Homo sapiens: one gene and its partners. The protein of the gene in region 4 purifies or fractionates together with the protein of the main gene of each other region. This does not show direct contact. Each region holds a gene or a part of one and is shown on either strand. Other genes may lie near its edges.

Region 1 (4,840 bases), on a different chromosome or scaffold from region 4:
TTAAGGTTTCAGAATCTGAAAAAATCCCAAATATTTTTATATTATTTTAAGTTATAAAAATTGAGTCCATTAAAAAAAAAAAAAAAAAGGCCAGGCACAGTGGTCCACACCTATAATCCCAGCACTTTGGGGGGCCGACGCAGGCAGATCACCTGAGGTCAGGAGTTCAAGACCACCCTGGCCAACATGGTCAAACCCTGTCTCTACTAAAAATACAAAAATTAGCTGGGTGTGCGTGGTGACATGCGCCTGTAGTCCCAGCAACTTGGGAGGCTGAGGCAAGAGAATCACTTGAACCCAGGAGGCGGAGGTTACAGTAAGCCGAGACTGCGCCACTGCACTCCAGCCTGGGCAATAGAGCAAGGCTCTGTCTCAAAAAAAATGCAAGAGAAATGCCATTGAGAACCAAAGAACAAAGTAAGCTCATATACTACACAGTTGGCCCTCGGTATCTGTGGGGGATTAGTTCCAAGATCCCTCCTCATATGCCAAAATCTATGGATGTTCAAGTCCTTATATAAATTGTATCGTATTTGCATATAACTTATGTGCATCCTTCTGTATAACTTAAATCATCTCTAGATTACTTACACCTAATACAATGTAAATGCTATATAAATAGGTACACCATATTTAGGGGACAATAACAAGAAAAAAAGTGTGTACATGTTCAGTACAGATGTAGCTATCCATTTTTTTCCCTGAATATTTTTGATCTGAGGTTGCTTGAATCCACTAAAGTAGAACCCATGGATACAGAAGGCCAACTGTAATATGAAATCCTGTGTTTTAAAAGTATGTCTTTATATATTCAAGTAAAAAAAAATTAGATTTACCATAATATCCATGTAGCTGAATTCATAATGTATACTTTTTAAAGACAACTTGTTTTTCTCTCTCAGTTACAAAAGTAGACTACAAATATCTAACCCACTAAAACAGCCTTAATCTATATTTTAAGATTAGAATCCAGGTAACCTGGCTTTGTATTCTACTGACTATGCCATTCAATACAATGAAACCTTCTGAAGGTCTAAGTATTAGTCATTTATTCACATCCTACTCTCTAAGAATAACCAAGTGGCAACCCACAACATTTTCAATAACATCATTAAAATAATGTTTACTTTCTGGCAGATATACTACAACTCACTAACATTTTTAATGGTTTTGCTCTTTTATAGTTACCAGACTGGGCTATTTACTTAAATAATGATTATTTACTCACCTTCATCCTCACTATCTTCTGCAGTTACATTGCCTTCACTGGTAATGGCTTCGTCATAACTATCCTCAGTCTGAGAGTCTGTAATTTCACCTTCCTCTGGTTCACTATCAGTCTCCATGATTTTCTCATCTTTAAATGATGTTGAATTAGAGATGTTTTCATGAAGAGGAGACTCTATAGTATTTCCACTAGTTGGAACAGTGACTTTGGGGGGACTATTTTTGTGATGAATGCCTATTTTGGCCTTCTTTTTCATATTTGCGAAATTTTCTTCCTCATTGCAGCTTGTATGTTCAACACTGAAGGCTTTTTGATCCTCTGAGTTCAAATCCTGGAGAAGGGTGGGTAGATACGAGGGAACAGGGGAGAATACTCTTAAACATCACTATCTTATAACATTACATCAAGTTTCAACGAATTCGTGAAGATATGTGTCAGTAAAATAACAATGGTTACAATCTGTTCCCCCTCTCCTTCTCACATTTCCTTTCTTGGTTAATGATATTACCATCTTCTTATTATCCAAATTAAAAATCCTATAGTTATCTCTGAGATCCCCTTAACCATATATAAAATTACGAAGTGCTACAGACTTTTCTCAAAATATATCCAAATCTGTCTCTCTATTCTCAATGTCTTAACATTCCTAGTTCAGGCCCTCATCACATACTGCCTGGACTATGGGATAGCCTAGACCAATGGTGTCCAATAAAAATGTAACACAAACCATATTTGTACTTTTACATTTTCTAGTAGCCACATTTAAAAAGTAAAATTATTAATGAGATAGTTTACATAGTCTGCAACATCCAGAGTGTATTTTACACTTAACAGCACATTTGAGTTTGGATTAGCAAAACTTCAAGTGCTCAACAGCCACATGGAGCTGCTGGCTACCTTACTGGATAGTGCAGGCCTAAAGAATACCTATTCTAAATTTTCTTTTTAAACTGGTAATCAATTAGCTAGTCAACACAAATAAAATACAGAATTAGCTTTACTTATGACATGAATTTAAAGATCCAAATGTACTCAATATGTAGCAAAATTGTAGTTTTGCTAAAATTTAGTACTTCAGATTCAGCTTGATAATACATAAAAGTTTAAAGTACAAATTAACTGTGACTATCTTATTCCAAAATTTTAACTTGCCTGGCATAAGTCTTTTATTATTTATTGTACATTTATAGTTGATATGCCTTATAATAAATGAACATTTTTTAATTAACAAAAATGATGTATTTTTATCATGTACAACATGAAGTTTTGAAATACGTACACAATGTACAGTGGTTAAATTGAGCTAATTAACATGTACATTACCTCAAATACTTATTTTTCTGTGGTAAGAAACTTAAAATTTGCTCTCAGCAGTTTGCAATAATACAACACATTGTTATTAACAATAGTCACCGTGTTATACAATGGTCAAATCTATCATTTCAGCCTTAGAAAAAGTAAATAATTATTTTCCATTTTTTTCCCTTGGTTTCTAACGCACTCTCACTTTTCTTTCTACCTCAGAGCAACATGAGGCGAATTCATATGCTCTTCTGTTATTTTATAAAATATGAGAGCATCTCACACACCTTTCTTTCTTTTTTTTTTTTTTTGAGACGGAGTCTCGCTCTGTCGCCCAGGCTGGAGTGCAGTGGCGCGATCTCGGCTCGCTCCAACCTCCACCTCCCAGGTTCAAGAGATTCTACTGCCTCAGCCTCCCGAGTAGCTGGGACTACAGGCATGCGCACCACCATACCCAGGTAATTTTTTTATTTTTAGTAGAGATGGGGTTTCACCATGTTGGCCAGACTGGTCTCGATCTCTTGACCTCATGATCCATCCACCTCACATACCTATCTTTGATAACAGCGTAAGTTCAGCTTGGAGACTGGCTAAACATTCACAGTGTGATAAATTATACACACTTCTAGCAATACAAATTCACCCAGAACAAGAACAAGGGCAAGGAGCTGAAAAACCATGAGGAGCTTTTACATTATAAAATTATAGCAAAAAAGTTCCCTATCTGTATATACTCTTAAAAAAGCAGTTTCCAATCTTGTATATTTATTACTTACTGAACAACATATGCAGGGAAAGCTATTTGCCAGTACAGAACATTAGATAGTCATTAAGTGAAAAGAAAGGAGGGCTTATTTATGGGCACTGAGGCACATATGTATATTTCAAATTATTTACTCCTATCTCCCCTACTGTCTTCCTTCCACATAACCTTCACCTACAAAAAGTGAGGCTCAAAAATATCTTTAAAAATAAAGAAAACAGATGAAGATACTCTCTTGGCCTCACAGGTACCTTTTAGAATCCTCAGGAAATTCTCAAAATTCCAACAGGATTTTTCTTAAAAGTTCTTGTCGAGTGCTCAATGGTGCCCAGGCTGGAGTGCAGTGGCGTGATCTCGGCTCACTACAACCTACACCTCCCAGCCGCCTGCCCTGGCCTCCCAAAGTGCCGAGATTGCAGCCTCTGCCCGGCCGCCACCCTGTCTGGGAAGTGAGGAGTGTCTCTGCCTGGCCGCCCATCGTCTGGGATGTGAGGAGCCCCTCTGCCTGGCTGCCCAGTCTGGAAAGTGAGGAGCGTCTCCGCCCGGCCGCCATCCCATCTAGGAAGTGAGGAGCGTCTCTTCCCAGCCGCCATCACATCTAGGAAGTGAGGAGCGTCTCTGCCCGGCCGCCCATTGTCTGAGATGTGGGGAGCGCCTCTGCCCCGCCGCCCCATCTGGGATGTGAGGAGCGCCTCTGCCCGGCCGAGACCCCGTCTGGGAGGTGACGAGCGTCTCTGCCCGGCCGCCCCGTCTGAGAAGTGAGGAGACCCTCTGCCTGGCAACCACCCCGTCTGAGAAGTGAGGAGCCCCTCCGCCCGGCAGCTGCCCACTCTGAGAAGTGAGGAGCCTCTCCGCCCGGCAGCCACCCCATCTGGGAAGTGAGGAGCGTCTCCGCCCGGCAGCCACCCCGTCCGGGAGGGAGGTGGGGGGGATCAGCCCCCCGCCCGGCCAGCCGCCCCATCCGGGAGGGAGGTGGGGGGTCAGCCCCCCCGCCCGGCCAGCCGTGCCATCCGGGGGGGGGGGGGTCAGCCCCCCGCCTGGCCAGCCGTGCCGTCCGGGAGGGAGGTGGGGGGGTCAGCCCCCCGCCCGGCCAGCCGCCCCGTCCGGGAGGGAGGTGGGGGGGTCAGCCCTCCGCCCGGCCAACCGCCCCGTCTGGGAGGTGAGGGGCGCCTCTGCCCGGCCGCCCCTACTGGGAAGTGAGGAGCCCCTCTGCCCGGCCAGCCGCCCCGTCCGGGAGGGAGGTGGGGGGGTCAGACCCCCGCCCGGCCAGCCGCCCTGTCCGGGAGGGAGGTGGGGGGGTCAGCCCTCCGCCCGGCCAGCCGCCCCGTCTGGGAGGTGAGGGGCGCCTCTGCCCGGCCGCCCCTACTGGGAAGTGAGGAGCCCCTCTGCCCAGCCAGCCGCCCCGTCCGGGAGGGAGGTGGGGGGGTCAGCCCCCCGCCCGGCCAGCCGCCCTGTCCGGGAGGGAGGTGGGGGGGTCAGCCCTCCGCCCGGCCAGCCGCCCCGTCTGGGAGGTGAGGGGCGCCTCTGCCCGGCCGCCCCTACTGGGA
Region 2 (4,840 bases), on a different chromosome or scaffold from region 4:
TGAACTCACACTAGCACTGGCTCCACCTGTGCTCCTTCGGAAGGAGCCCTCAGCCCTGAGCCCCAAGGCTCCAGTGCCCTCCCCTTGCGGGGCGGGGGCCTCACACCCTCTGCCGCCCTGTGCTGAGGGCCCTGTGGCCTCCCCTTTCTTGCAGTGTGAGCAGCTACGAGAAGACCCAGAGCTATCCCACCGACTGGTCAGACGATGAGTCTAACAACCCCTTCTCCTCCACGGATGCCAATGGGGACTCGAATCCATTCGACGACGACGCCACCTCGGGGACGGAAGTGCGAGTCCGGGCCCTGTATGACTATGAGGGGCAGGAGCATGATGAGCTGAGCTTCAAGGCTGGTAGGTGGGCTCCCCCAGCATCCAGGGGAGGAGGGCTTCCAACCTGCAGGCTGTGGGCGGTCTTTTTTGTTTTTTAAGTCTGGAAAAGTTCTTGCTAGTTTCACTTGTGAGTCACTGCAGGCCCTTCCCCAGTGCCCTGGCTTCATTGTCAAAAGCAGCCAATTGGCTGGATGTGGTGGCTCATGCCTATAGTCCCAGAGCTTTGGGAGGCCGAGGTGGAAGGATCGCTTGAGCCCAGGAGTATGAGACCAACCTGGGCAAAATGGCAAAACCTGTCTCTACAAAAAATACAAAAAATTAGGCCAGGCATGGTGGCTCACGCCTGTAATCCCAGCACCTTTGGGAGGCCAAGGCAGGCAGATCACTTGAGGTCAGGAGTTCGAGCCCAGCCTAACCAACATGGTGAAACCCTGTCTCTACTAAAAATACAAAAATGAGCCAGGCGTGTGGCGGGGCATCTATAATCACAGTTACTCAGGAGGCTGCGGCAGGAGAATCACTTGAACCTGGGAGGTGGAGGTTGCAGTGAGCCAAGGTCACACCACTGTACCCCAGGCTGGGTGACAGAGCAAGACTTTGTGTCAAAAAAAAAAAATTAGCTGGGCTAATTTTAGTGGCACATGCCTGTAGTCCCAGCTCTCTGGGAGGCTGAGGTGGGAGGATCACCTGAGCCCAGTAGATTGAGGTTGCAATGAATCATGATTGTACCACTATACTCCAACCTGGACAACAGAGCGAGACCCTGTCGCAAACAAACAAACAAATAAATAACCTGGGCAACAGAGCGAGATCCTGTCTCAAATAAATAAACAAACAAAAGTAGCAGATTAGCTGGGCGTGGTGTTGCATACCTATAGTCCCAGCTGCTTGGGAGGCTGAGGCAGAGGATCACTTAAACCCAAGAGGATACAGTGAGCCATGTTCATACCACGTACTCTAGCCTAGAAGAGAGAGCAAGACCCCATCTCTTAAAAAAAAAAAAAAGTAGGCTGGGCATGGTGGCTCACGCCTGTAATCCCAGCACTTTGGGAGGCCGAGGCACACAGATCACGAGGTCAGGAGATTGAGACCATCCTGGCTAAGAGTGTGAAACCCCGTCTCTACTAAAAATACAAAAAATTAGCCGGGCGTGGTGGCAGCCGCCTGTAGTCCCAGCTACTCGGGAGGCTGACGCAGGAAAATTGCTTGAACCCGGGAGGCGGAGCTTGCAGTGAGCCGAGATTGCGCCACTGCACTCCAGCCTGGGCGACAGAGCAAAACTCTTTTTCAAAAAAAAAAAAAAAAGCGGATGCCCAATGCCAAGACTCAGAAATAGTGAGGTGCTGCCAAGCCAGTGCCTGGACTCCTCACCTTGCTGGGCCAAGGCTGTGAATTGCAGGGCACTGGCTAGTCACACAGAAGGGCATCTGGAGAAGCTGTTGGCCAGGACCACCAGGTTCCCCCATATGTAGTCTGGGAGCTGCTAGCCCCGCAGGGCCATGAGAGAAGCCTTTCTCTAGGGGTCCCCAACTGCCAGAGAAGCCCTCAGGAGAGCCACAGCTTTGCCCAGACCCCAGAGTAGCACTTGGCATGCCCCTGGGCCAGGTGGGGCCTTGTCTCAGGCAGCAACTTGTGTGTGTGCACACCTACCTGCCCACACCTACCATGCACACACCAACCCACACACATATCTGTGTTGCTAGGAGCAGAAACCATAGTTTTATAAAACAGCCTGGATCCTGATTACATGTGCTCTGCCTGTGAAGACTTTCTGTGCAATGTCTTTTTCTTCTTTGAATGGTCTTCAATGATAATCTTTTTTTTTTTTTTTTTTAATAGAGACACGGTCTCACTCTGTTAGCCAAGCTGGGTTACAGTGGTGCGATCATAGCTCACAGCAGCTGCAGCCTTGATCTCCTGGGCTCAAGCAGTCCTCCCACCTCAGCCTCCTACGTAGCTGGGACCACAGATGTGTGCTACCACCCCACCCACTATAGGAATCTTTTTTAATGCATTTGCAGTTTACCAAAATGGCTTTTCACATCTTCAATTTGAAAAGTGTTATCTTGTCCGGGCACGATGGCTCACACCTGTAATCCCAGCACTTTGCGAGGCCAAGGCCGAAGGATCACTTGAGGTCAGGAGTTTGAGACCAGCCTGGCCAACATGGTGAAACCCTGCCTCTATTAAAAAATAAAAAAATTATTCAGGCATGGTGGCACACACCTGTAATCCCAGCTACTGGGGAGGCCAAGAGAATCACTTGAACCTGGGAGGTGGAGGTTGCAGTGAGCTGAGATCATACCACTGCACTCCAGCCTGGGTGATGGAGTGACACTCTGTCTCAAAAAAAAAAAAAGGAAAGAAAATTGCTATCTTAGCACCTAAGGAAGCTGGAGTGGCCTAGGGCCAAAGTGGACCCACAGCAACCCAGATTCTTCCCTCTCTTGCCCTCTTTGTGAAGCTCCCCCAGAAGCAGCATCTACCACTCCAAGAGGGAAGCTGGGCCAGAACTCAACCCACACAGGCTGAAGTGTGCCCTTGCCCCTAGGCTACACTTGTGGGAAAGGCTGCCTTACCACCACCACCCCAACCCCTGACTCAGCAGGGAAGCCAGGGCCTGGGGGCTGTGCCCAATGGCCTAGCTTCTAACCAGTCTTCAGCCTCCTCCCCTCAGCACCCAGAGTGCCAGCCTGCTGTCCCCAGACACTCTTCCCCTGGGCTGGTTATCAGCTGCCTCTGCCCAGTTTGAGAAGTTGGGTTTTTTTGTTTTTTTGGATTTTTTTTTAATGTGCCTTTAAGCCATCTTCATCCAGTTTCTGATATCTTTGGTTGGGGTTGTTACCCCCGACTTTGTTGGTTTATTTGTTTATAATTTCTAACTCCTTTTCAATCCTGCCTATTGGGTTTGACAGTAATTTTGTAGATTTAAAATGTTTCTTCCAGATCCAAGTAAATTGTCAAAAGCAAACTGATTGAAATGAACCTTCTAATCACCAGTTCACATTTGCACAATGTGAAAGCTTTCCTGTCCGTTCTATTTTCTGTGTTATCCTGCTTTTTAACAATGCAAAATTAGCTCCCAGCCAGTGTGGCTTGACTTACGTCTCTTGCGGTGTTCTGGCTGTTTGCCACATGGTAGTGTGGGGTTACAGGCCTCATCCTAGCCTCGGTAGCCTGGATCCAGGCCTGTGAGAGCACAGCAACCAATGAAGGCAGGACAAAAGAAACGCCAGGGGCCCGAGGCACGAAGCGGTGGAAAGAGATGGTGGTTCATCGTGGCTGCTGCCCTGTGGCCCCTGCATCTGCTCCTGATGCCTCTGGGTTAGATCTGCAGGCGCACTGGTCTGGCAGAAGCGGCACGACAGTGGGAGGCTGAGCCAGTGCTTACGCATGTCCCACCCTCCCAGGGTTCTTTAGTGTCTTAACACTTAATCTTCACAGTACCCCCAGTCCACAGATGAGGGCCACAGGCCCAGGGAGTGGACGCAGTTGGTCCAGGTCTCCCAGCCAGTGAGTGATGGCTGTGGGATTTGAGCCCAGGCAGTCCGGGGAGCACTGGAAGCCCCAGGTATTAGCTCCGCAGGCATGTTGACCAGCATTGCTGCCATACAAAATCCAAAGCATCAGGGAAATGCTAAACCAGGGGGAAAACTGCATCTAATTCTGAAAAATGGACCAAAAAATGCCAAAGAGAGTTACAAAACTTCAAACTTAGCAATAAAGGCAAAACAGCACTGGGACTATTTCTTTCCCACCAATTGCTTGCTCCTGACGAGGTCCGAGCCAGCAGGCCCAACTGGCCTTCCCTGCAGTGAGTTACCAACCAGAAGCACACAGGCCCCTGCCCACCCCTGGGCTCTGAGCTGCTCTGCTTCCCTAACCTGGCAAATGCCAGACCTGGGGCCCTACCCTAGTGCCACCTCCCCCTCACCACCCTAGTCTGCCTCCTTGAGACCAGGATCCATCAGTTCCTCTCATCTCTGTATCTCCTCTTCTACCCAAGGCCTGGCCAGAAGTAGGAGGTCCTTCAGGTTGGAACAACCAAAGATAAATGGAACCACGTTAATACATTAGAGCCACAGGGAGATTCCAGAACAGCGCCAGGGGCTCCTTCTCAGGGTCTCAGGAAGGGTTGACACATGGCACCGTGCACAAGTCATCAGCCAGGTGCTGGGGATAAAATGACAGGTATGACTGTCAGACATGGTCCCTTCCCCTCGCAGCCTGGAAGTTGCAGAGGAGAGGGATTAGCAAAGGCAGAGAGACCCCAGAGACAGCTGCTGGGAGCAAGGCGGCCGGGGCCCTGGGGAGGGGACAGAAGAGGCCCAACGTGAGGGAGGGGCACAACCGAGGGACGATTCCTGCCACCTGGCCAGGGTGGTGAGGAAGGCACAGCCCTATGGAGCTGGATGCCGCAGTCTCAGTGGGAGCCACTGTGGCAGCTGAGAGCAGCTTGTTCCAAATTACTGTGTGAGACTGTCATCTCTAGGTCTGTCAGAGGCCCATG
Region 3 (4,840 bases), on a different chromosome or scaffold from region 4:
GTATAAGGAAATTAACAAGCTAAACCCTATAAGAGAAACTCAGAAAGACTTATTGTGTCTTACCTGACAGTTGAAGAAGCATCTATCTGTAGGGAATCCAGAAGGAGCGTTCATGAAGGTATTACAAGCCCGGAAGAAGCACACGAGCACTGAGCTGACTACTGAGCTGGAGGCGGCCTCAGACAGCAATGGCATCAACTTGTCAGGCTTTGGGAGTGAGCAGCTAGACATCAATGACGCACTAAATTACGTCTTGCCTTATTTCTCATAGAAAAATCTATAAGATGTAGAATCAATGTTGTTACTGTTAGGGACGAGCTGCCCCAGGAACCGCCCCCGCAGTGCAGCTGACCCTTACCCCGAATACTCTGCAGCTGCATTCCTGAACCCTTATCTAGGTGCCACAGCAAGGTTGCCGACTTGCTACACTAAGCAAACCCTGCTTACAGCCCTCCAGGTGGCACAGGGAAGGTCATGAGAAATGTGGATAAATCTAAGTTATACCCTCTTGTAAATTCCTCCGGTCATGAGACGATATGTGGTAAAGTTAACTGAAAAGACCAAGAAGCAGCTTCTCCACTCCTTCTGGGATCTCTATCTGGTTCGGCCTTCCTGCCCCCACTCCTGCCTCCACCATGTCCATCAGGGTGACCCAGAAGTCCTACAAGGTGTCCACCTCTGGGCCCCGGGCCTTCAGCAGCCACTCCTACACAAGTGGGCCCAGTGTCCAGATAAGCTCCTCAGGCTTCTCCCTAGTGGGCAGCAGCAGCTTCCAAGGTTGTCTGGGCGGAGGCTATGGTGAGGGCAGCAGCGTGGGTGGCATCACCACCATCACAGTCAACCAGAGCCTGCTGAGCCCCCTTAACCTGGAGGTGGACCCCAACATCCAGGCTGTGCGCACCCAGGAGAAGCAGCAGATCAAGACCCTCAACAACAAGTTTGCCTCCTTCATAGACAAGGTATGGTTCCTGGAGCAGTAGAACAAGATGCTGGAGACTAAGTGGAGCCTCCTGCAGCAGCAGAAGATGGCTCAGAGCAACATGGACAACATGTTCCAGAGCTACATCAACAACCTTAGGCAGCAGCTGAAGACTCTGGGCCAGGAGAAGCTGAAGCTGGAGGCGGAGCTTGGCAACATGCCCGGGCTGGTGGAGGACTTCAAGAACAAGTATGAGGATGAGATCAATAAGTGTACAGAGGTGGAGAATGAATTTGTCCTCATCAAGAGGATGTGGATGAAGGTTACATGAACAAGGTAGAGCTGGAGTCTCACCTGGAAGGGCTGACTGACGAGATCAATTTCCTCAAGCAGCTGTATGAAGAGGAGATCCAGGAGCTGCAGTCCCAGATCTCGGACACATCTGTGGTGCTGCCCATGGACAACAGCCGCTCCCTGGGCATGAACAGCATCATCGCTGAGGTCAAGGCACCATACGAGGAGATCGCCAACTGCAGCCAGGCCAAGGCTGAGAGCATGTACCAGATCAAGGATGAGGAGCTGCAGATGCTGGCTGGGAAGCACGAGGATGACCTGCAGTGTACAAAGACTGAGATTTCTGAGATGAACCGGAACATCAGCCAGCTCCAGGCTGAGACTGAGGGCCTCAAAGGCCAGAGGGCTTCCCTGGAGGGCACCATCACAGATGTCTGCAGCACAGGGGGCTGGCTGTTAAGGATGCCAACGCCAAGCTGTCCAAGCTGGAGGCCGCCCTGCAGCAGGCCAAGCAGGACATGGCATGGCAACTGCTTGAGTACCAGGAACTGATGAACATCAAGCTGGCCCTGGACATCGAGATAGCCACCTACAGGAAGCTGCTGGAGGGCGAGGAGAGCCAGCTGGACTCTGGGATGCAGAACATGAGTATCCATACAAAGACCACCAGTGGTTATGCAGGTGATCTGAGCTCGGCCTGTGGGGGCCTCCCAAGCCCCAGCTTTGGCTCTGGTGTGGGCTCCAGCTCCTTCAGCCGCACCAGCACCACCAGGGCAGTGGTTGTGAAGAAGATCGAGACCCATGATGGGAGGCTGGTGTCCTAGTCCTCTGACGTCCTGCCCAAGTGAACAGCTGCGGCAGCCCCTCCCAGCCTGCCCCTCCTGCGACTCTCCCAGAGAGCAGAAGGGAGCACAGGGAACGTGAGACCCACCTGAGGCCCAGCCCTAGCCCTCAACCCACCCACAGGGTAGTTTACTACCTGGGGACCCCCCATGCCTATGCCTTCAGCTACAAAACAATTCAATTGCTTTTTTTTTTTGGTCCAAAATAAAACCTCTGCTAGCTCTGCCAACAGCTAACCTTATAGTTACCTGTTTTTTTCAAATGTGAAAGATGGGTATTCCGAAAAACCATACAAAGAGTCCCTCTCTTCAATCTGCATCCAAAAACTCATGAAATTAGAAACTGTCCAACCACAGGAAAACAGCCTGGCTAAGATTCAAAGTGTAGGCAAAAGCCTGCAGAGAGTGAACAGAATCCTCATGGGCCCAAGGAGCATCCAGAAAAGTCACTTCAAAGAGGTGGGAAAGCAGAGCAACAGGAAGGAACAGGGTGCCTGGGCATTTGTGGAGAATGCTGCCAAAGAAAAAAGGCTCAGGAGTCCAGCCCCAAGGGAGCTGGAACAGCCTCACATAGAGCAGGGGCATGAGAAGTTAGCAGGAAACGCCATCTATACCAAGCCTTCGTTCAACCAAGAGCATAAGGCAGCAGTCTTCTCTTTGCTGAAACCCTTCTCCATGGGCGTGCCTTCTATCTCCACCCCTGCAAAAGCCCTACCTGTGGTCAGAAACAGATTGAAAGACTTACCCATTTTGGTTTTAGAAAATGCAAAGTTGAGTTAAAACCAATCGTACATTCCAGAAAAGTTCTCTCAGTAGACTTTGCTTGCAAAGAGGCCTCCATTCTCTGCAGTGAAAAGCCTCATAAATGCCCCTTCACAAGGGGCTTTTTCATCTTTAGGAGACCTGAGTCTTCAGGAAAATCCTTTTCCGGAAGTATTTCTCCATCAGAATGTTTTAAAAGCACCACTGCAAGAAATGCCTTTGAACAAAACATTTTTATGGAAAACACTACTATGCCAGAAGGCACCATCTCTGAAAACACAACCTACAACCATCCTCCTGAGGGAGATTCTGCTGAGACTGCGTTCAACTTAGAGAAGACTGTGAAACACAATGGGAATACAACAACATGGGCACTGGCCTGTCTCCCGAGCCCAAAAGCTTCAATTACCCATTGCTCTCGTCCCCAGGTGATCAGTTTGAAATTCAGCTAAACCAGCAGCTACGGCCCCTCATCCCCAATAATGATGTGAGAAGACTCATTTCTCATGTTATCTGGACCTTGAAGATGGAGTGCTCTGAGACCCATGTGCAATTGGCCTATACCAAGCTCATCTCCAGGACAGGCCTCCTGATTCATCAGTGAGCAGCAAGAAGTAAAGATGTCCAAGGCAGAATGGGATACAGACCAATGGAAAACTGAGAACTATATCAATGAGAGCACGGAAGCCCAGAGCAAACAGAAAGAGCAGAAGTCAAGTGAGGTGAGGACCACACAGAAACATGAAACCCAGATTTTCCTATCATTTAGCATCTTCCAGGAAAGTGCCCACACAGGAGAACCTGGGACTCCCAGACCATAGTTTGTCTTGGCCATGTAACTTCAGCCGTGACAGTGATCTCCCACTTTGCTCATTTAGAGAGTGAAACAGGTTAGTACACAAGATAAACTGTAGGCCGGACATGATGGCTCATGCCTGTAATCCTAGCACTTTGGGAGGCTGAGGTAGGTGGATCACTTGAGGTCAGGAGTTTGAGACCAGCTTGGCCAACATGGTGAAACCCTGTCTCCAAGGGGAAGCCAATCTTAATGCCCACCAATTTTCTTTGATAATGAAGCTGTATTATTTATATCTCAGAGGATTATTTCATTTCAGGTAATTTGTTGGAATTTTCCCTTCACATTTTTCAGTATTAACGATCTGTCCCCTCTTTGTACTACTAGGCTAAAAGTTCGTTAATTTTTAGGTGATAAATAGCTGTTGTTAATAATTTATTTTATGTTTGTTTTATTAATTTATTTGTGCATATTTAACCATCTACCATAATTTTTACCTTGTATCAACAGGATTCTTACTACAGATTTAATGACCTTAACTACAGATGGGTCTCTTTGGATAACTGGACCTATAGCAAAGAATTTAAAATCCCCTTTGAAATTAGGTATGTATGTTTGTGGGTGTATTTTTATTATTATTTGAACTTTTCTTCTTTTTCTATCTGGGCAAAAATGTTGTGTTTTGTTTGTTTTTTTTTTGTTTTGTATGTTTTGTTTTGTTTTGTTTGTTTAGGTTACATATCTGAGAGTTAAGTAAGATGAAAGCCTTGTACTATAAAAGTGAATATATTATTTATGTTTTGTTTTGTATATGAGGATGGTGCTACTAATCAACAGTCACCAAATTGTGTCTTATGGAGTCATTTTTCCAGTGGTTATGCCCTATGTAGTGCTAACCAGCCATTGAGACTATGACCTTGACCTATACTATGTGGTGAAGCCAGGAGGTGAAGCACAGATACTGTTTTCAGTAATGTTCTGTTATTATAAGCAAATATTTCCATATGAGGTAGAATGTTACCCAAAGGTACCACCACTACTGCTAAATGAAAAAAAAAATCCTTCTGTCCCTTTTATGTGATTTTTTTTTTTTGGTAATTATTTACTAGTCTTTTAAAGGGGGGAAAAGGCCAGAATATTGTTATCAATATCATGGAGTTACTGCTGTGCTCCAGGCTTTTATTTACAGATAATATTTAGAATATCTTTCGTAATGGTTCTATTTCA
Region 4 (4,840 bases):
AAATGGAAGCCACCACAGATGGCTTCCTGCAGTGCCAGAGCACAAAGAGGAATAACTAGCGCTGAGGCCAGAGAGAGTTCGCCATCCTCGGAGCCGAGTGGCCATAGCTGGAACTAGAAGGAGGGGGAGTTGCTGGGAATTTTCGTTTTTTTATTATTATTATTATTATGATACTTTAAGTTCTAGGGCACATGTGCACAACGTGCAGGTTTGTTACGTATGTATACATGTGCCATATTGGTGTGCTGCACCCATTAACTCGTCATTTAATGGGTTCAGCACACCAATATGGCACATGTATACATACGTAACAAACCTGCACGTTGTGCACATGTGCCCTAGAACTTAAAGTATTAAAAAAAAAAAAAATCTGACCGGGCACTGTGGCTCACACCTGTGATCCCAACGCTTTGGGAGGTCAAGGCGGGTGGATCAACTGAGGTCAGGAGTTCCAGACCAGCCTAGCCAACATGGTGAAACCCCATCTCTACTAAAAATATAAAAATTAGCCGGGCGTGGTAGCACACGCCTGTAATCCCAGCTACTCGGGAGGCTGAGGCAGGAGAATTGCTTGAACCCAGGAGGCGGAGGTTGCCGTGAGCCGAGATGGCGCCACTGCACTCCAGCCTGAGGGACAGAGTGAGACTTTGTCTCAAAAAAAAAAAAAAAAAAAAAATCAAGATAATTTAGGAACCAAGAAGGAAAAGTCCACATCACAACAGCATCTCAGCACGTCAGCCCAGGCCTGCCAGCCCCTGGGGTCTGCGTTTGGCAGAATGATGCCCCCCAGAGATGTCCATGCGTAATTCCTGGAACTGTCGATGTGTCACACGGCAAAGGGGATAAAGTCACAGACAGAATTGGTGACACTAATCAGGTGGCTTTGAGATGGGAGATGCGGGATCATCCCGGGGCCCGGTGCTATCACAAGGTCCCTTAGGTTGGTCCCAGCTTTGGCTACTGGAGAGCCTTCACACTGGCTTCTGTGTCCTTTCGACATTGCCCCTGGCTGTTTTTGAGCACTTTCTTTCTTTCTGGTACCACGAGATGTTCCAGGCTTATCTTAGACATTTTGTGCCCCAGCCCTGAAGTCAGCCATTTCTCCAAGGAACACTGGTTCCTTTTGTTAGAGAATGGTATCTAGAAACCAAGATATATGTGCGTATGTGTGGGTGTACACACATCCCAGGGATTTAGATGGAACCCACGGAACCATACAGGTGCTAGAAGAAAACATGGGTGAATCCCTATTTAAGCCATGGTATCGAGAAAGGCTGGGTAAAACAATATTGTTTCAAAAAATTGGCTTGCCCAATCCCAGGGCCCAGCAGGCCAGCAGGCTGGAAACTCTTGGGAGCCGACGCAGCATTCTTGAGGCAGAATTTCCGAACGTGCTGGTAAGGCCTTACCATTGGCTGGGTGAGGCCCCACCCCCAGCATCAAGGATTATCCCCTTTACTTAAAGACAACTGATGATAGATGTTAACCACATCTCCCAAATACCCCCACAGTGACCCCTAGACTAGTGTTTGACTGAGTAACTGGGCACTGTAGCCTGGCCAAGTTGGCTCATAAAGCTATAATCATCACACTGGTTCCAGGGGCAGAGGTCTCTGCGCAAAGGTGTGTTCAGACAACTGGCATTGTCCCTCCTCCTCCTGCCCCTGCCCATTTCTCTCATTCCTTTCACCCTGTTCCCACCCAATTCCTGTGGGCAACTTACCTCATCAGTTTCTGGTCTTTCTTTCCTGTATATCTTTTGCATAAATGAGCAGATGCCTGCATTTTCTTACATCCCCTTCTTTCTTATATAAAGGGTTGTATACTAGTGACACTCCTTTGTACTTTGGTTTTTCTTCACTTAACAACATAACCTGGAACTCTCTCCTTGTCAGTGCAGAGGGAGCCTCCTCCTTCATTTTTACAGCTGTATAGTACTCCGCCGTGCAGAGTCTTTCAGCCATTTTCCTTTCAGCCAGGGCAGAAGCCAAGCGAGCAGAGGCACTTAGGTTGTGGCCAGTATTTTCCCATTTCAGCATCGACGTGGATGGCCTCACGCATCCGTGTTTTCCCAGCACTGGAGCTGACTCTTCAGAATAGATACCCAGAAGTGGGGTCGCAGGACCAAAGGTGAGAGCAGGAGGAATGTGTTAGGTTTTGCAACGTCCCTCCAGAAGGCTGATGCCAGTTTGCATTCCCACCAGCAGCGTATGGGGTGCCCGTTTCCCCAGACCCACCAACAGACTGTGTTGTCGTCCATTAGAGTTGTTACTGTCTGATAAGTGAGAAGTGATGTCTCAGCAGCATGTGAGTTTGCATTTCTGTACTTAGGAGTGAATCCGAACATCTTTCGTATGTTTACAGGCCGTTCTTTTATCTTTTTGGCAAATTGTGTCTTTTCCTATTTTCTATCAGGTCGTTTTTAAAGAGTTCTTTGTATGTTAGATGGGTTAGGCCTTTGTCTCTCGTGTACATTAGAGATTTTCTCCTAGTTTGTTGGTTGTCTTTCAACTTTGTTTTTTTTTTCTTTTGGTGTTTTTGTTGCCACACAATTTTTTTAATGTGGTCAAAACCATCCATCTTTGATCGCCTCTGGATTGGAGTCCTAGTGGAAAGCCCCTCCCCACATGAAGGGAAAAGAGGGATTTGCCACGTTTTCCTCTAGCCTGTGTGGTCCCACTGGTTCCATCGAAATCCTTGGCCCATCGGAGTTTATTCCAGTTTATTCTTGTGTATGGTGTGAACTATGAATCAAATGTTATCTTTTTCTGGATGCGCTACCCACTTGTCCCATTTATGCAAACGTCCATCTCTGCTCCCCGTGACCTGAGATGCCACCTTTGTCATGCACTAAGCTTCCCTGTGCACTTGGCCCGTGCCTTCTTAAATCGTCCCTTTCCCAAACCTTCCTCATCTCACCTGAATCTCATATTGATCTATTCTCCAGAACTATCAATGGGTCCTCACCGCCTGCTGAATGTTTACCTAATTATCCCTTAACTTAGTCCAAGAAACGCGTTTACTGTAGCTGGCGTTTATTACCGCGTGCTGGGCTTTGTGTCGAGCACGTAACGTACATTGGCTTTTTGAGGTCAGCAGCAGCCTGGCGGAGGTGGGGCTGTTGTGATTGCTGCTTCACCTGCCCAGGCTCGCACAGCTGGTACCCATGGCTCCCTCCTGGTTCCCGGCGGAGGTGGAGGGATGCCCTGCCTCCATATAACTGTGGCCTCCTGAGATGGGGATGCAAGCCTTCAGGTGCTGCCTCCGTCCTGGCGATGTCCCTACCAACCTGGTGAGGTCCATCGCATTGAGACACCAAGCCTGGCAGTGGGCCAAGGGCAGCCTTCCAAGGGTCTCCAGTAGCAGCGAGGGCCTGGGGTTCTAGGGTGGGCAAGTTTGTCCAAGTAACTAGTGGAGGGGAAGAGGGCCCTGGAGAGAACACGAAGGCACAAATAGGGTGAGAGGCGCTAGGCTGCCTGCAGGCAGGCCATCACCAGGTGTGGGCAGGTGGCACTGTGTCTGTTGGATGAGCGGGACCCCAAAGTGAGGCTGACCGGCAGGCAGCCAGACAGCCAGGTGGCTGGCCTCAGGGAATGCTCCCAGCCCAAGCAGGGTCCCAGCTGGTCTCAAGGACTGTGAGCCAGGCAGGTGACCTGATGGGGGACACAGGCTCTGGGAAAGGCCCGTCTCTGAGCCAAGTGCAGTTGAGGCTTGGCAGCTGGGGCAGAAGCCAAGCAAGCAGAACCAGGCAATTATTGGGGTCTGGTATCCAAAACCAGGCTGGCATGGAGGCCAGGGGATTCTGAAGGCAGGAGCCTCTGGGCCAGAGCTGCCACATGCCTGCTGCCGCCCAAGGTCATAGCTGTCCCAGGGCCCTGGGCTGGGCCTGCAGGTATCTTGGTATATGGCAGAGGGAAGCTTCCAGACTCTTCTGAAATCAGAGGTCTCATTTAACAACAGCTGCGTGTCAAAGGGGACTCACCTTCCTATGAGCGACGTAGACAAAGGCGGCCGGCCAGCCTTTTATGGGATACACACACAGGAGTAAGTGGGGGCTGAGACATGCTCGTGCCAGCTCCTAGTGCCGGCCCAGAAGTCTTGCTTCCTCTATCAAAGCAGATGGGAAGGAGGCCCCCCGTGATCCCTGCTTTACTCAGGACGTTGAATAGAAGTAAAAAGTGAATGGAAGACTCCTCATGGCCTGGTGCAGTGGCTTTCGCCTGTAATCCCAACACTTTGGGAGGCCAAGGCAGAAGAATTACTTAAGCCCAGGAGTGTGAGAACAGCCTGGACAACAAAGTGAGACTCCATCTCTACAAAAATTTTAAAAATTAGCTGTACATGGTGTTGGACACCTGTAGACCCAGGTGCTTGGGAGGCTGAGGCGGGAGGATCACTCAAGCCTGAGAGGTCAAGGCTGCAGTGAGCCATGATGGTACCACTTGCACTCCAGCCTGGGTGATAGAACCAGACCCTACCTCAAAAAAAAAAAAAAGAAAAGAAAAGAAAAAAAAAAAAGAGGCTCCTCCTCTGCACAGGGGTCATTCCTGGGTCCCTGCCCTGGCCTGTAGGTCCACTTTTTTTTTTTTTTTTTTTTTTTTGCGCATTCAGGGTTTGTAGCCACTGCGCTTGCCCTGGGACCTTGGCTGCCCGGCATGGATCTGCACGCAGGTGCTTGCTGGGTTCCGACAGCCCTTGCCCTGACCGTGACCCCACTCCTCCGCTCATCCTGTTGCTTTGTTACCTGGTTGGTGGATTTTGTCAGGTTGTCTGTTGTGAGCAAGGCTTGGGGGTGATTCCTGAGCCCTTTCTAACACGTGTTGGGTGTCTTCCACTCAGC

What was found.
Region 1: the proteins of RAMP1 (region 4) and AGGF1 purify together in Homo sapiens (affinity purification with mass spectrometry; one large-scale study listed by BioGRID and IntAct). This does not show direct contact.
Region 2: the proteins of RAMP1 (region 4) and PACSIN2 purify together in Homo sapiens (affinity purification with mass spectrometry; one large-scale study listed by BioGRID and IntAct). This does not show direct contact.
Region 3: the proteins of RAMP1 (region 4) and MANBA purify together in Homo sapiens (affinity purification with mass spectrometry; one large-scale study listed by BioGRID and IntAct). This does not show direct contact.

What each region holds. Positions count from the first base shown.
Region 1 is NC_000005.10:77,043,066-77,047,905, reverse strand, and holds part of AGGF1 (angiogenic factor with G patch and FHA domains 1), read right to left. Parts: intron 1,560-4,840; coding exon 1,229-1,559; intron 1-1,228. UniProt on the Homo sapiens protein: Promotes angiogenesis and the proliferation of endothelial cells. Able to bind to endothelial cells and promote cell proliferation, suggesting that it may act in an autocrine fashion.
Region 2 is NC_000022.11:42,871,648-42,876,487, reverse strand, and holds part of PACSIN2 (protein kinase C and casein kinase substrate in neurons protein 2), read left to right. Parts: intron 1-154; coding exon 155-351; intron 352-957; exon of another isoform or gene 958-3,996; intron 3,997-4,028; exon of another isoform or gene 4,029-4,503; intron 4,504-4,840.
Region 3 is NC_000004.12:102,725,967-102,730,806, reverse strand, and holds part of MANBA (beta-mannosidase precursor), read left to right. Parts: intron 1-70; exon of another isoform or gene 71-3,437; coding exon of another isoform or gene 3,438-3,539; intron 3,540-4,123; coding exon 4,124-4,218; intron 4,219-4,840.
Region 4 is NC_000002.12:237,879,336-237,884,175, forward strand, and holds part of RAMP1 (receptor activity-modifying protein 1 isoform 1 precursor), read left to right. Parts: intron 1-4,840. UniProt on the Homo sapiens protein: Accessory protein that interacts with and modulates the function of G-protein coupled receptors including calcitonin gene-related peptide type 1 receptor (CALCRL) and calcitonin receptor (CALCR). Required for the transport of CALCRL to the plasma membrane.